Linked DNA regions of Homo sapiens. The protein of the gene in region 3 purifies or fractionates together with the protein of the main gene of each other region. This does not show direct contact. Each region holds a gene or a part of one and is shown on either strand. Other genes may lie near its edges.

Region 1 (3,136 bases), 7.0 Mb from region 3:
TTTCTAAAATTGCTTCTTGAATTGCCAAATGCCACTGATCCCCTATTTCCCTAAAAGTTAATGAAAACAAAAATCAACAACCATATTCCTACTCGGTAAAAATTCTTCACTGTCTCTTACAACATATATATATTACTAGAATTGGTATAGTTTTAAAACCACATACGATTTTAATTGGTATTAAGTAAATGCTTGTTGACTAACAGGAGGTAGATTTAAAAATTACAATTCAGAAGTCTCAGCCCTCCTCCCACTTTCCAGTAAAAGAGTGCAGAGCGCTGGCCAGGCGCGGTGGCTCATGCCTGTAATCCCAGCACTTTGAGAGGCCGAGGCAGGCGGATCATGAGGTCAGGAGATCGAGACCATCCTGACTAACACGGTGAAACCCCGTCTCTACTAAAAATACAAAAAAAAAAAAAAATTAGCCAGGCGTGGTGGCAGGTGTCTGTAGTCCCAGCTACTCGGGAGGCTGAGGCAGGAGAATGGCGTGAACCTGGGAGGCAGAGCTTGCAGTGAGCCGAGATCACGCCACTGCACTCAACCCTGGGCAACAGAGTGAGACTCCGTCTCAAAAAAAAAAAAAAAAGAGTGCAGAGAGCTGAGGCAATGAAAGACTAGCCCACCGCTGCAGAATAAATGGATTGGGTCATTCCTATGTTTAAAAATCCTGTGTACTTACAGTAATTTCTGTTTTCTTTCTATTGTTAATAAGTACTTTAAATGAGTTGTGAACTTATTAAAGTTGTAAAAGTTAAATGTTAGTTATTTGAGACAGGGTCTCGCTTTGTCACCCAGGCTGGAGTGCAGTGGCGTGATCTCGGCTCACTGCAATATGTGCCTCCCAGGCTCAAACCATTCTCCCACCTCAGCCTCCCAGATAGCTGGGACTACAGGCACACACCACCAATTCTGGCTAATTTCTTTTGTATTTTTTGTAGAGACGGGGTTTTGCCACATTGCCCAGGCTGGTCTCGAACTCCTGAGTTCAAGTGATCCACCCACCTCGGCTTCCCAAAGCACTGGGATTATAGGTGTGAGCCACTGTGCCCAGCCGAATGTTATTTTCTTTAATTGTAATGATAGGTTCAAATTCCTAAAGAAAATTCTTAGTAAATACTACATTTGAGCTTCTCTTTTCCAAAATAATTGATACAGGACTAACATTTTGTACAGTCACCTTACTATAATGACAGTTTTAAGGTGTTTCTGCTGTAGTAAGGGACATTTGTCTTGCTTGTGAGACAAAGATGGCAGGAGAGAGAGGAAAGTGACTTCACTTCAAATCACAAATTTTCATCTTAGGTAATAAAATAGTGGACTTGCCAATTCCTAAGGCATGAGGTAAGATTCCCAACAGAGGTATCATCACACTACTAATTGTTTCTATCTCTGCAAAATAGAGGCGGTGTTTGTCTCTGTGTGTGTGGGGGGGGTGTGTGTGTGTGTGTGTGCGCGTGCCCACGTGCAAACACGTGTGCATACTGCTTCCTCACATTTCCAATTTTGCTGTCACTTATTTGGAATTTCATCAATGAGTGATTAGATGAGACTTTGGGGGTATTGTATACATATTGTAATTGCCACTGTTGGGACTTTTAAAACAAACAGAATTTGATCTGTACTATCACTGGATAGATAAGCAGTGCCCTCAGGAAGCTAATTCTAAGAACTATTACAGCTTATATATGAAATACTGTGAATTCTAAGGCAGTCACTTTTGACTGTGCTATTCTCTGGAAGCATATGTTGTTGGAATTATAAAGTCTGAAAAGTTCTTCAAATATTATATTGACAAGTGGAGACAGGACTTTGTAGAGAAGCAGGTATATACATCTTTGTAGGAAACTTTTTACAATTTGAGATTTGAAATTTGTAAGCAGCAGTGATTGTATCTATATTTTCTACTGAGGCAAAAATATTGACAGTCATGTATAATGACTTACACATTTAATAAAGGGTACTCTTTGTCATTGTGAGTCATTAATTTGCCTCAAGCATTTATCTATCTGCTATGACGATTCATAAGGAATACAAAGATTTATAAAAGTTTTACAAATCTTTATACATTAGTGTCCTTTGGCCAAATCTTTGCTTGGAATTTAATGAAAGAGAAAAACATAACATTTCTGTGGTAGAGATTCAGAAGAAAAACATTTTCAATTACAGACACACCATTATAAGAATATCATGCATTTTCCAGCCAAATATTCAGAATAAGAGTTACATGTACCCCTGATCATAATACTTACATAACGGGATCAAACATATTCCGAATCTTTAGACACGGTGTCAAACTATTTGGTGGTGAATTTCTTCTATCTAAATGAAATGCTACAAAAAACAAGTTAGTTTTACTATTTGACATTGTTCTAGTTTGTTGAAAGGTATTCAATCATTCAGTTCATTCAAAAAATATTCACTGCATGCTTTTACTAGGAGCCAGACCCCTGGTTAGATGTTAAGGTGAGTAAGACAGTCATTGCTATCAAAGAGTTTACAGTTTAATGGGAGAGACAGATGATAAAGAGTGTCATGTAAGAAAGTACAACTGTGATTAAGTCCTTAAAAAAAAAAGTACAAAAAGCTTTTTAAAAGTAACTTAACCTCATATGAGAAAATAAAACTTCCCTGAAAAAGTGAAATTTATGTGGGAACTGAAGAATAAAAATTAGCAGGGTGAAGAGAGGTGTGTAAAGGAAGATTTCAAGCAGAGGTGATTGCTTGTACACAGCTCCTGGGGCACGAAGGAGCAAATGTGGCTGGAGTAGAAAGAATAGAGATAAACCTACAGAAGATGTCAGATTATTTAAGATGATGTAGGCTACAAAAAAGTATTTGGGCATTATGGTAAGAGTAATAGCCACTCAACTGTTTTAAGGAGTAGAATAGGATGAGATCTGTCTTTTAAAACTACATATTTTAAAAATACATTGTTATGTGGAGACTCAGGTAAAAGCAGAAGTGAATGCAAGATGACCAGTTAGAAGGTTATTATTATATTATAGTTGTCTAAGAAGGAGAGGATAATGATGTGGGTAAGACAGGCCAACAGTGCAAGTGACAAGCGGATAGAATCAGGACATATTATGGAGTAGATATGACATGACCTGTTGAAAGGTTGGACAAAGAGGGATAA
Region 2 (3,500 bases), on a different chromosome or scaffold from region 3:
TTATATCAGTTGACATTTGCTTTAGCGTATTATTTGCTGTTGTTTACTATATCAGAAAAGAGTCTGTAGTAATAAACTTTCTTTTACTTTGAGCAAGGAAATACTTTTTAAATTAAGTGTATGTTTAAAATGTGGAAACAGAAAACATCAAATGTATAAACATTAACTTATTTAAAAATAATTCAGAAAAATAGCACTTTTACAGTTGGTACTAAGATCATATGTATTTTGGGTATGGGTCAGAACTTACCTAATTTAGAAGAAACAAATTGACAGTTTATCTTCATTTAGTGTGTGTGTGTGTGTGTGTGTGTGTGTGTAAGGGTACAGGATAGAGGGCTGAGGAATGTTACTTTAACTAATAAGTAATGGAAAATAAGTCATGGTCACCATTTCTTATTTGCAGTACTTAAGAGATACTTGTTTAGTTAGTATTTCTTTATTAATAGATTAGTATAATAATTTGGTGTTTAAGTTCTGGAGTCAGACTGTATAGATTCATACCCTAGCTTGCCACTGATTAGATTTATGATACTGAGAAATTTTAAAACTCTATATTGTTTCCTTTGTATCACAGTGGCATGTATCTACTTTACAGATTGTTTTATTGAAAGAGATAGTACATGCAAAGCACTCAACATAGTTCCTGGCATTTAGTAAATGATCAATAAATGTTAACTATTATTATCATCAGTGATTATAATTGTAATGGAATATTTTTATTCGGAATCTACTTTCCTTTAAATACTGTATATTTTCTGAAAAGTAGGGTACAGTTTGATTAATATTTAGAAGTATACTAGGATCTTATTGTCTAAAGGAACATTTTATAACCAAACTGGTTGGCAACAAATGTATGCCTACTGTGGCAGGCCCCGCTTTCATGAAACTTTCAATCTAGGGAGAGATGATGGGCATTAAATAAATAATTTTGTTTTTGAGGTGTGATGAATGTTACGAAGTTGTACTCAGTGCTTTCAGAGCAAGGAATGTGTGACCTAGTCTATAGAGTTGGGGGTGGAGGGGCAGTGGGAATAAGGAAGACTTCATTGAGAAAGTGTGCCTCAGAAACGTAGAATGAGTAGGAGATTGCTTAATGAAGTGGAATTGGAGGTTGAGGGGAGGTTGAGGGTCAAAGCAGAAGACACAACATGTGTGAGAGCCCTAAGGAAAAAAAGCTTGGCATCACTAAGAATCTGAGAAATGTTAAGTATGGCTGTTGCAGAGGGTGTGGGTCTGGGTGATGAGACTAGATGAGAGGTCAGGTTTGGCCTGCTTACAAGTTTTTTGGCCTCCTTATTGTTGTTACAAAAGTTTGAATTAGTTGTCAGCATTCACAGATCAGGAGATTTCATGTTAAAGTCTGGATTTCTGATCTTTCTTGAAAAATTAGAGGTTATGGCAACATCCAGTGTATTTTCAGATGGTAATATTCAAGCCACAACCCAGTAGCAGCTGCTCCCTTGGGAGGGGGACGGGGGCGGGCATGTGCCACTCAGAGTGCGAAATAAGTAAATACAAATCAATCAATATTTAACCTGGTTGTTGTTGAGTTTGCAAATTCTAGTCAGGATTCTAGAGAGTTTGTAGTTAAATATTTTGGTTTTTATCATAAATACTAAGAGAAGTTATTGAAGGATTGTAATAAAAGCAAGGGAATGACATGATCATTTTAAATTAAAAAAATTAAATAATCACTTTGGTTGCAATGATTACTTACTGGATGGTAAGAAGCAGGAGGATAACAAGTTAAGAGGGGCTGGGTCACAGAGGATATATTGGCTTAGATCGCAGTGGTGATAGTGGAGAATGAGATAAATTAGTGGAGAAAAGTGGTTGAGTCAAGAGGTGTTAAACTATTAAGTTTCACAGAAAATGGTGGTTGGTTAAATATGGGGCCAAAATAGAAAGAAAAGTGAGTCCAAGATAATGTCTAGGTTTCTGGGTGACATGGCCATGGATTAGTAAGAAATACATACTATATTTAATTAATGCCCTAATTTATAGATAATAGTGGTATTACATGAATTTAGTATATTTTCATGAGGAAACCAATATGTTCCCTTCTATTAAGTAGTTCATAAATAATCCAGAATTTTCAAACACTGTAGATACACTTTATAGATGATAAGGATATATCAAATGTGTAGTTTGGTGTTGATTATGGTTATTTATAGTATCTATGATTTTGCAGTACCCAAAACCAGAAGTTGTTATAATATACATGTTGTTATACGCTAATATACATAAAGTAATATACGTAAGTATACTTTGTGTACATAATAGATCTCAATAATTAAAAACTTTTTTTTTTAAAACTGACATTTGTTTTATATAATGGCATTTATAGATGGGCTTTGTGAGTTAAAAAAAAAAAAACCCAGCTTATGAGCTGTTTATCTGAATAGCTAATAAGTTTCACCCTCCAGTCAGAACTTTGTTAGTCTGAATTGAATACTTGAGGGTCAGGTATATGTTTACCTTTGATACTTTCCTCAAAGGCATTGGAGTTATAAATAAGGCTGCATCTTAGTTCTACTAACTAGCTGTGTGGCATTGTGCTAGACGTAATCACTCAAACCTGTGCGCTGTCCAGTACCATAGCCACTAGTTATATATGACTATTGCACTTAAAATGTGGCTAGTCCAGGCTGCAGTGTGCTTTAGTGAGTTTCTCAAGTTCTTCATGTTATGATTCGTGTTTTTTTTTTGCTTGATTCAGTTTTGTTACAAGAGTAGAGATTTCAAATCTCACTATTGCAATTTTAATTTTCTTGTCATCTTTCTTTGTCTCATCCCTCTTCTGGACCTTTTTTTTCTATCCTGTTTTTTATTTGGGGCTTTCTGCTCCTGTTTGGGCGACGTCACATTGTTTTATGCACTAATATTAAAGTCTGCTGGATGTTCCATTTCCCTTATAAATTGCTCATGGTTATTTTTCCCACTTCCCTTTACTCAGACATGAATTATTGTGAGGTTTGTTTGTATTTGACGTTTGTCAACAACAGACTGGTGTAGATGCCTTTGCTGCATTTGTTTTTTTTTTTTTTTTTTGGGTACATTCTGTGGTCCAGGCTGGAGTGCAGTGGCACAATTACAGTTCACTATAGTCTCAAACTCCTATGCTGAAGTGATCCTCCTGTCTTAGCCTTCTGAGTAGCTGAAACTATGGGCATGAGTTGGGACTACAGGTGTGAACAACCATGCTAGGTTAAGTTTTAATTTTTGTAGAGATAGGGTCTTACTTGTTGCCCAGGCTGGTCTCAAACTCCTGTGTTCAAGTAATCCTTTTACCTTGGCCTCCCAAAGTGTTCGGATTACAGGTGTTAGCCACTGCACCCAACCGAATCTTATTTTTATCGATATGGATACTTTCAAATTGGAGCTCATGCCTAAGATTGGAAAGTTGGTAATGCAGAAGCTAAGTATCTTCTAGAAATCAGTAGTACATGGTAAACATTAATTGATTTTTTTTTTTAAGTGAAAGCAAGTTTATTAGA
Region 3 (4,205 bases):
CACTGGAAAGCTGCAAGAAAGTAATTATGGCTAGGTGAAATGAAAAACTGACCAATCATGGAATGTATTCGTTCACCGTTCTAATAAGCCCAGCTTTTCTCAGTCTCAGGGTTTTGGTCCTGAATGTTACACTGTAGACATTGTGTGTTAATCGTTTCTCCAATCTAAAGATGGGAATTATCCTATGGGGAAAACATCACCTTGCTTTGGCCTTTACTTCCGGAGGATTTTAATGCTTCATTGCTAACATTATTTTAGTACTGCACACCTGGACACATCGCACAGTATAATGTAATATATGTAGTCAGGTTTTGGAGAATTTATTTCAATTTACATACAATCCTCCAAATCCTCTGGCGAGCTTGATGTGAAATCTGACACAGCCACATCTCCCTAGCAGGATCTTCTTTTGCTCTCTATGTTAATAGCCAAAGGCTCCAAGGATCTCTCCCTGGAGCGCGGTGGGGCTAAGGAGTCAGGAAGAGGGGTGACTGCGGGGCTTGTTGCGCTGAAGATTTACAATGTACTTCTTGCAGGCGGCTCAGCAACCCCCTCTGTGGCTGTGGGTGTCTGGTGTGACAGAGCGGAGAAAAGCTCTCTAATCTCCCAGTGCCTGCCTCTGCCGCTCAGTCGCTCCCCTCCCTCCCGCCTTTCCTGCCTCCTCGCGCGCTCCCTCTCCTTTGCCTTTCTCTGGGAGTTTCAGTCCCTCAATGCAGCTGGAGTAGCCCTGGCAATCTAAACCCGAAGCCTGTGTATATACACACACGCACACACGCGCACACACATGCACACGCGCTCGGACATACGCACTTCGGCTCTCCCCCTTGGGATATGGAGCAAACCCAGAGCTTCATCTACCTGAAGGGGATGGCCCGGCCGGACACTTCTTTCTCACTTGTCATCTCCGGAGGGCAGAGCAAGACTGGAATGAGGGAGTCTCGCTGTCGGGTCTGCAACCTCCTGCCGTTTGCCGCCACCGCCGCTTAAAGTGCCCAGGGTGGAGAAGGCTTTTCCAGGACGGATCTCCGTCGTAGCTTCGCGGCCCTGGGACTTCCTCCTGCTGGTTCACTCTAGTCTCTCCCACCTCGGCCATCCTTTTCTCTCCAGCTGCAGGGTGTATGGCTCGGGTGCCTCCCGTGCTGTGGCCGCCGTCACTGCTGCTGCGAGCACATTCCACCCAGAGGACCGAACGCCGCCGCTGGAGTGGGGGGAGAAAGCGAAAGCCCTAACTTCCCTCTCTACACCCTCGCTCTTCCCACCGCTCCCGTCCTTCTCCCTAGCCGAGAACCGGTTGGAAGGCTCCCGCGGAAAGCGAGGCGAGAGCGCGGCGCAGGGGAGGGAGAGCCGGGAGCCGCAGGCGCGCAGGGGCGGGGGCAGCATGTGCCCCGCCGCCGGGTGCTCGTCCGAGAAGTAGCGCGCGCTGGGCAAGCAAGACGCTTTCCAAGTTGGGCGCGTCCCAGAGCTCACAGCCCGGTGTCCAGAGTGAGGCGGGGCTGATGGGGGTCGCGGAAGCTGCCGTCGCTTGTGTCCAGAACCCGTCTTAAAAGAACCCGGGCCAGCATCCCCAGTCGCGCGCCCTCGGCCCGCGTGAGCTCTCCGATGCCTGCTCTGGCTGTGGCCCGGGTGGCCCGCCCGCGGGGGGTGCCAGAGGGGGCGGGGGAGGAGGAGGAGGCGGTGTGATGGCCCTGGACGGCGAGCTGGGGGAGCAAGAGGAGGAGAAGAAAAAGAAGAAGAAAAAGAAGAGGAAGAAGAAGAAGGAGGAGGAGGAGGAGGAGGAGGGGGCCGAGAAGAGCAGCTCACCCTTCGCAGCCGCGATGGGGGAAGACGACGCCGCGCTTCGGGCTGGCAGCAGGGGGCTCTCCGACCCGTGGGCAGACTCAGTGGGAGTGCGACCCCGCACCACGGAGCGCCACATCGCCGTACACAAGCGGCTTGTGCTGGCCTTCGCTGTGTCCCTCGTGGCATTGCTCGCGGTCACAATGCTCGCTGTGCTGCTCAGCCTGCGCTTCGACGAGTGCGGGGCGAGTGCCACGCCAGGCGCCGACGGTGGCCCCTCAGGCTTTCCGGAGCGCGGCGGCAACGGGAGCCTCCCTGGATCGGCCCGGCGCAACCACCACGCAGGCGGGGACTCCTGGCAGCCCGAGGCGGGTGGGGTGGCCAGTCCGGGGACCACGTCGGCCCAGCCGCCGTCGGAGGAGGAGCGGGAGCCGTGGGAGCCGTGGACGCAGCTGCGCCTGTCGGGCCACCTGAAGCCGCTGCACTACAATCTGATGCTCACCGCCTTCATGGAGAACTTCACCTTCTCCGGGGAGGTCAACGTGGAGATCGCGTGCCGGAACGCCACCCGCTACGTAGTGCTGCACGCTTCCCGAGTGGCGGTGGAGAAAGTGCAGCTGGCCGAGGACCGGGCGTTCGGGGCTGTCCCTGTAGCCGGTTTTTTCCTCTACCCGCAAACCCAGGTCTTAGTGGTGGTGCTGAATAGGACACTGGACGCGCAGAGGAATTACAATCTGAAGATTATCTACAACGCGCTCATCGAGAATGAGCTCCTGGGCTTCTTCCGCAGCTCCTATGTGCTCCACGGGGAGAGAAGGTATGGAGGGAGGCGGTGCCCCGCGCTGCCCCACCCCGGCGCGCGGCTCGAACCTCTGGGCGGCCTGCGACCCCGGGGACCCAGCTGGCTTCCAATACCCGGGAAGCCAGGGGTGGGGGGAAGGAAACGAAAGCGGAGTAGGGCAGTCAGAACTCCGGGGTCTCCCAGATGCCTCGGGGTCTCGCTGCCGCCAACTTCGCAAACTGACTCACCGGTGCCAAAAGATGAATGCTGCCCCCTCCTCTAGTCGGGACCTCTCCTCTTCCTGTCAGAGTTCCTTAGCCATCGAAACGCAGGGCTCTTTTTCTGAAGGGTAGCTGATAATCTGAGCGATGCCAGAGTGACATGAAAAGCTTGCCAAGTTACTGTCGAGGGAAAATACGTGGCGCTGAAGGCCAAGACAACAGCGCATCCAGGTTAGCATGTCAGGGCAGGTCAGGGACACACCGTTCTCCACCCCCACCCACAACATGCCCATCTTCCCTGACTATTAGTCTCCTGCCAGGTGCAGAGCAGAGGATGGGCTTTGGCTGCGTCAAGTTTCCCCAAACTTCAAGTTGAGATTCGGAGTGAAAAGAGTGGTTTCCAGAGATAGGCTGAGAGGACCGGGACGGGGGTGGAGGTTGCCAAGGCCAGAGCCAGCGATAAGTGGCCTCGCGGGCGCTGCCAGCTCTGTGCTAAGGCAGGGCGACTCCGGTTGTTTGTTTATGAGTTGCTGCCTCTGGAGATGATTCCAGTGGCCAAGCGGTGGGAAAGCTAGTTGTCAGTCTCAAATGCCTTGTTAGTGTCTTTGCCGCGTTTTACATTTGTGTAGTTTTGTATTTTTATAAAAAATTTCCGAGAGGCCGTGGAGCTTTTCACCACTTGTTTAGAGCTCAGACCTCATAATCCAATAGAACTGAGTTCGAATCTCTGCTGTTCATCTAACTCTGGTGGAGGTTTGAGGAAGGTAATTAACCTTTTCCTGACATGACTACTTCTAGTGCTTATTGCACGCCCATGTACTCAATCCGACAAGAACCCTATGAGGTAGACGCTATTATCAGCATTCCCTATTTTACAGGTGGGGAAATGGAGGCACAGGTGTGTCACATAGCTTGATCAAGATCACCAAGAGTGAGCAGACAAAGCACGGATTTAGACCCAGGGAGTCTGGCTCTTGAGCCTAGACTTTTAATTCTAACTTGGGGATACCAATAATAATATTCTACTTGTAGGATTGGTGTAGACGTCTATGAGTGAATGCATTACAAAGTACTTACCCCTGTGCCTGGCATATAGAGTATCCACCATAAATGCTAGCTCTCATGAGTGTCTTGTGGCAGTAAGCTCTCAGGTATATTGTTGAATGAATAAGTGATTCTTGTTCTTTGCTCTAATTCCCACATTGCTAAGATAACTTAGATTAATTAAATGACTGAGGGCAGATGAACAACCAAAGTGAGCTTAAAAATTAAACCAACAACTTTAGAAGAGGAGGCAGGTTACAGATCAGTAATGAGGCAGAGCCTCTCCTTTTCTCAGGTGATTCTCACAACAGCAGAAAATGGGCTCGGAGAAGCCCAGGGCCCTGGAGGTGAGCAGGCTTGTCAGTGGAGAGTTAGGACTTGAA
Region 4 (3,500 bases), on a different chromosome or scaffold from region 3:
AAGCTTCAGCTTCCCTCCCAGGAACTCTTCGTAAAGCCAGCAGGGAATCAAGTCTCTCTTATTTGGCATCCCCACTACTAGTCTAGCGAGTGCTGTCCGAAAGAACTTTCTGCAGCGATGGAGACATACCACATATGCACTGTCATGTGGCCTCATGTGACTACTGAGCACCTGAAATATAGTTACTGCAACTGAGTTGCACTTTTAATTTTATTTAAATTAATTTAAATGTAGACACATGTGGCTAGTGGCTACCATTCTGGACAGCAAAGGCCTGGGGAGTAGAATGAGCAAGAATGTGTGTGTTTAATAGTGGTCTTTTCAGGTCTTTTGGTTTTTGGAAAACGAAATTCAGTATGTGAATAGCCCTATGGTAGAAAACAAATTCTGATGCCAAAAAAAATGTAGTTGGAAGGTTTTTTGTTTCCTTCACATTCACTATTTTTGAAATCCACGGTTCTGTGGTATTACATACATATTACTTTTGAAAGGTCACTCTTCCGTCATCATTTTATTTCAATAAGTCCTAAACCTTCTGTGGTAGCATATTGGAATAGTAATAAAGTCATGCCATGTTATTTTGGATAAGCAAAAGGATTAAGCTGGATTAAAGAGAAAATGATTCTAGAATTTTTGACCTACCTTCTCCCAAAATATAATTTTTTTGTGAGATAATTTGCTGTTCTAACTTCTCATTGATGAGGAAAAGCCTCAGTTATTTGATTTTAAAAGACAGGGTCCTCTGTACATTTGGGGGTCAATCTAATTTCCGCAAAATGTACCCAATCCATAAACAGACTCTCAAAGTTTGAAGTGGAAGATTAACCACTACTAAGACACACATACACATAAGGATGTCCTCAATCTGAATTCTCCATGGTATAAAGTCACCCACTCCAATTTCTACCCTCACATTAACCTATATTCTGCCCATTCGGGATATATATTTCCTGCTCAAATCCATCAGTTTCACTATTTCACCACTTGCACCATTTGCACCATTTCACCATTTGCAAAGCACCTTAAACACACTTAAGAGGTGAATATTATTTAAAGTTTACTAAACAATTTAAGTCAATTCTAGACCGATGAAGTACCTAATTCCTAGAGAAATACATTTCTGTTCTCTGTACATCAAAACATTGTTAGAACAGCTATAAACTCAAATGCAATTATGTTCTCAGGCAATGTTAAATTGAGCAATAAAAATGCTAAGCTCAGAAATGACTGGTTTGCTAAGGGAAAAAAAATCTCTCTTCCCACCCCCACCTCCCCACACTCCTTTCAATTGGTTAACTTCTATTAGAGAAGCCAGCATTCTCAAAATGAGGTCTGAAATAAGTATTTCTTTCCCAATTTGTTTATTTCAATGAAATCAACTTGTATTGATTTTAAAACAAATAAACTTGATAAAATTCTACTCATGCTTGGGAATCAGTCTGCTTAAGAATATTAAGCTCTACATAATAATTTCTTATCCTCACCATTAACTATTACAGGCTCATTTCCAAAGGCCTGCTATACTGAAATTCCATTGATTTTTGAAACATTCCAACAACATACTTGGAAACATTACACAAATATTTTATCTCCAACATTATTTCTTGCAATGAAATACTCTCTTGCAATATTCAAGGCATGAGAATTAAACTTCACTTAGCCCAAATATAACACCCAGCAACTGCAAAAATTGAAAAAAATGACTAGTGGTGATTAAAAAAACTGACTGGCAAAGTAAAATGTTCTATGATATACCATGTTGCTGGTGGTATGGGGAAATAGGCATTCTTATACAAAAATAAGAACTTTTGCACATTAGAAACACTCTTTTCTGAGAAAAAATTGGAAATACCTATCAAAATTCATTCATACATTCTGATACTGTAATTTCATAGTTACAAATTTTTGCTATAAACAGCCCATCAATATTGATTAAAGTATGCCTATAAAATGGAATACTATGCAGACATGAAATTAAAAAGGCAGATCTATATCCAAAATACACTAATTTGTTTTTAAGAAGGTACAAAAGGTTGCAAACTATATGAATTCATTTATATAACATTTTGCAATGTTGGCCAGGGTGTGAGGGGAAGGAGGAGGAAGTTTCTCATTTTAACGAATAACTGGTAATTGAGGAGGAGGAGGAAAGAGCAGTCTCCACCGGCTTCACATGCGGCACAGAGACCAGAAAAAAAGCAACATGGCCTTGGGAAACAGTTCTTTATGAAATCTGCTCTTGATCGTTCTATCTTGAGGATATGCCAACTTCATGAGACCCCAAAGTAAAGACTTAGAACATTTTCCCCGTATTGCCTTTGTAGAGAGACAGCCTTACTCACAGCAGATACTCAGGAGCTTGACAAATCAAAATCTAGATTTTTGTCAATTATTATGACCAGATTCTTTAAATATAAAATTCATAATTGATCATGAGTTAAGAGAGTGGCTACTCTCAAAGAAGTGAAATATCCTGCTAATTAATAAGGGGTACATCAAAATTTTTAAAACCTCATTCTTTTATATTCAAAAGTCCTGTTATTATAATTAATTGGTATTTTTCAGGTTTTTCTTTCTTGGTCACTTTGGTCCTACCCAAATCTAGATTATTTAATGGACTAGAGCAAGAGTCACCAAACATTTTCTTAAAGGGCCATATCATAAATATTTTAGGCTTTCCAAACCAAGACAAAAATCAATCAATATTGTAACTACTCAACTCTGCCATCTTACCTCTGTATTTTATCCAGCTAAAGTGTCAATTAACTGTCAGGTTTCCTGACAAAATTTAGGAATTTAATCTTCTGCAAATCTTATACTTGTAATTGGAGGCAGAGTACAAACAAAGGCAGGGGTCTCTAGAGTTGACACTCTGTGTGATGGTCATGCCACACTATCCTTGCTCACCCAAAATTTTGTGGCTAAACAAAGAGGGCCAAGACTGGAGACTCTCCAACCATCCTCTCCAGCTCTAAATGTCTATATTAGGATCAGTGTATAAGCACAAAAGCTCACTGATCTTTCAGTTATTTCTGCCTTTGTTCAGGTTTTCCACACCCAGGGCACCAATCTATCAGATTTTGAATACCAGAAGCTTAGAATGTTTACAGGTACTCTTAAAAACAATTAGGGAAAATTATTAATTCAGATAAATTTTCTCCCCTTAAAACCCAAGTTTTTAAAATTTTCAAAACCACTAGGTTTTGAGTCTGTGAAAGCTCTGAATCCCTAAACTTAAGCAGCCTTGCTGAAGTGAAAAAATCAAGCTTTATCAGCTTTTACTTAAGTCAGGGTGACTTAAGTATAAAACACATATGGCAGTCATATTTAAATTAAGAGACTAGTTAAAATATTTATTAGCCCCTATTGAAAAATATTTAATAAAGAAATGTCTGGCAGGCTAAGCCGCTTAACTAGATGAGGGACATAGCTAAAGTGATTATTTTTATCAGTCTTCTATATACATGTTGCATATTTCATGACCACAAGTACCATACAGT

The links. The genes of interacting proteins can lie anywhere in the genome.
Region 1: the proteins of TRHDE (region 3) and LEMD3 purify together in Homo sapiens (affinity purification with mass spectrometry; 2 studies listed by BioGRID and IntAct, with this or other methods). This does not show direct contact.
Region 2: the proteins of TRHDE (region 3) and MAN1A2 purify together in Homo sapiens (affinity purification with mass spectrometry; 2 studies listed by BioGRID and IntAct, with this or other methods). This does not show direct contact.
Region 4: the proteins of TRHDE (region 3) and TSPAN3 purify together in Homo sapiens (affinity purification with mass spectrometry; 2 studies listed by BioGRID and IntAct, with this or other methods). This does not show direct contact.

Annotation. Positions count from the first base shown.
Region 1 is NC_000012.12:65,242,583-65,245,718, reverse strand, and holds part of LEMD3 (inner nuclear membrane protein Man1), read right to left. Parts: intron 2,332-3,136; coding exon 2,250-2,331; intron 51-2,249; coding exon 1-50.
Region 2 is NC_000001.11:117,370,449-117,373,948, forward strand, and holds part of MAN1A2 (mannosyl-oligosaccharide 1,2-alpha-mannosidase IB), read left to right. Parts: intron 1-3,500. UniProt on the Homo sapiens protein: Involved in the maturation of Asn-linked oligosaccharides. Progressively trim alpha-1,2-linked mannose residues from Man(9)GlcNAc(2) to produce Man(5)GlcNAc(2).
Region 3 is NC_000012.12:72,270,965-72,275,169, forward strand, and holds the start of TRHDE (thyrotropin-releasing hormone-degrading ectoenzyme), read left to right. Parts: upstream 1-1,405; 5' UTR 1,406-1,679; coding exon 1,680-2,593; intron 2,594-4,205. UniProt on the Homo sapiens protein: Specific inactivation of TRH after its release.
Region 4 is NC_000015.10:77,047,110-77,050,609, forward strand, and holds part of TSPAN3 (tetraspanin-3), read right to left. Parts: intron 1-3,500. UniProt on the Homo sapiens protein: Regulates the proliferation and migration of oligodendrocytes, a process essential for normal myelination and repair.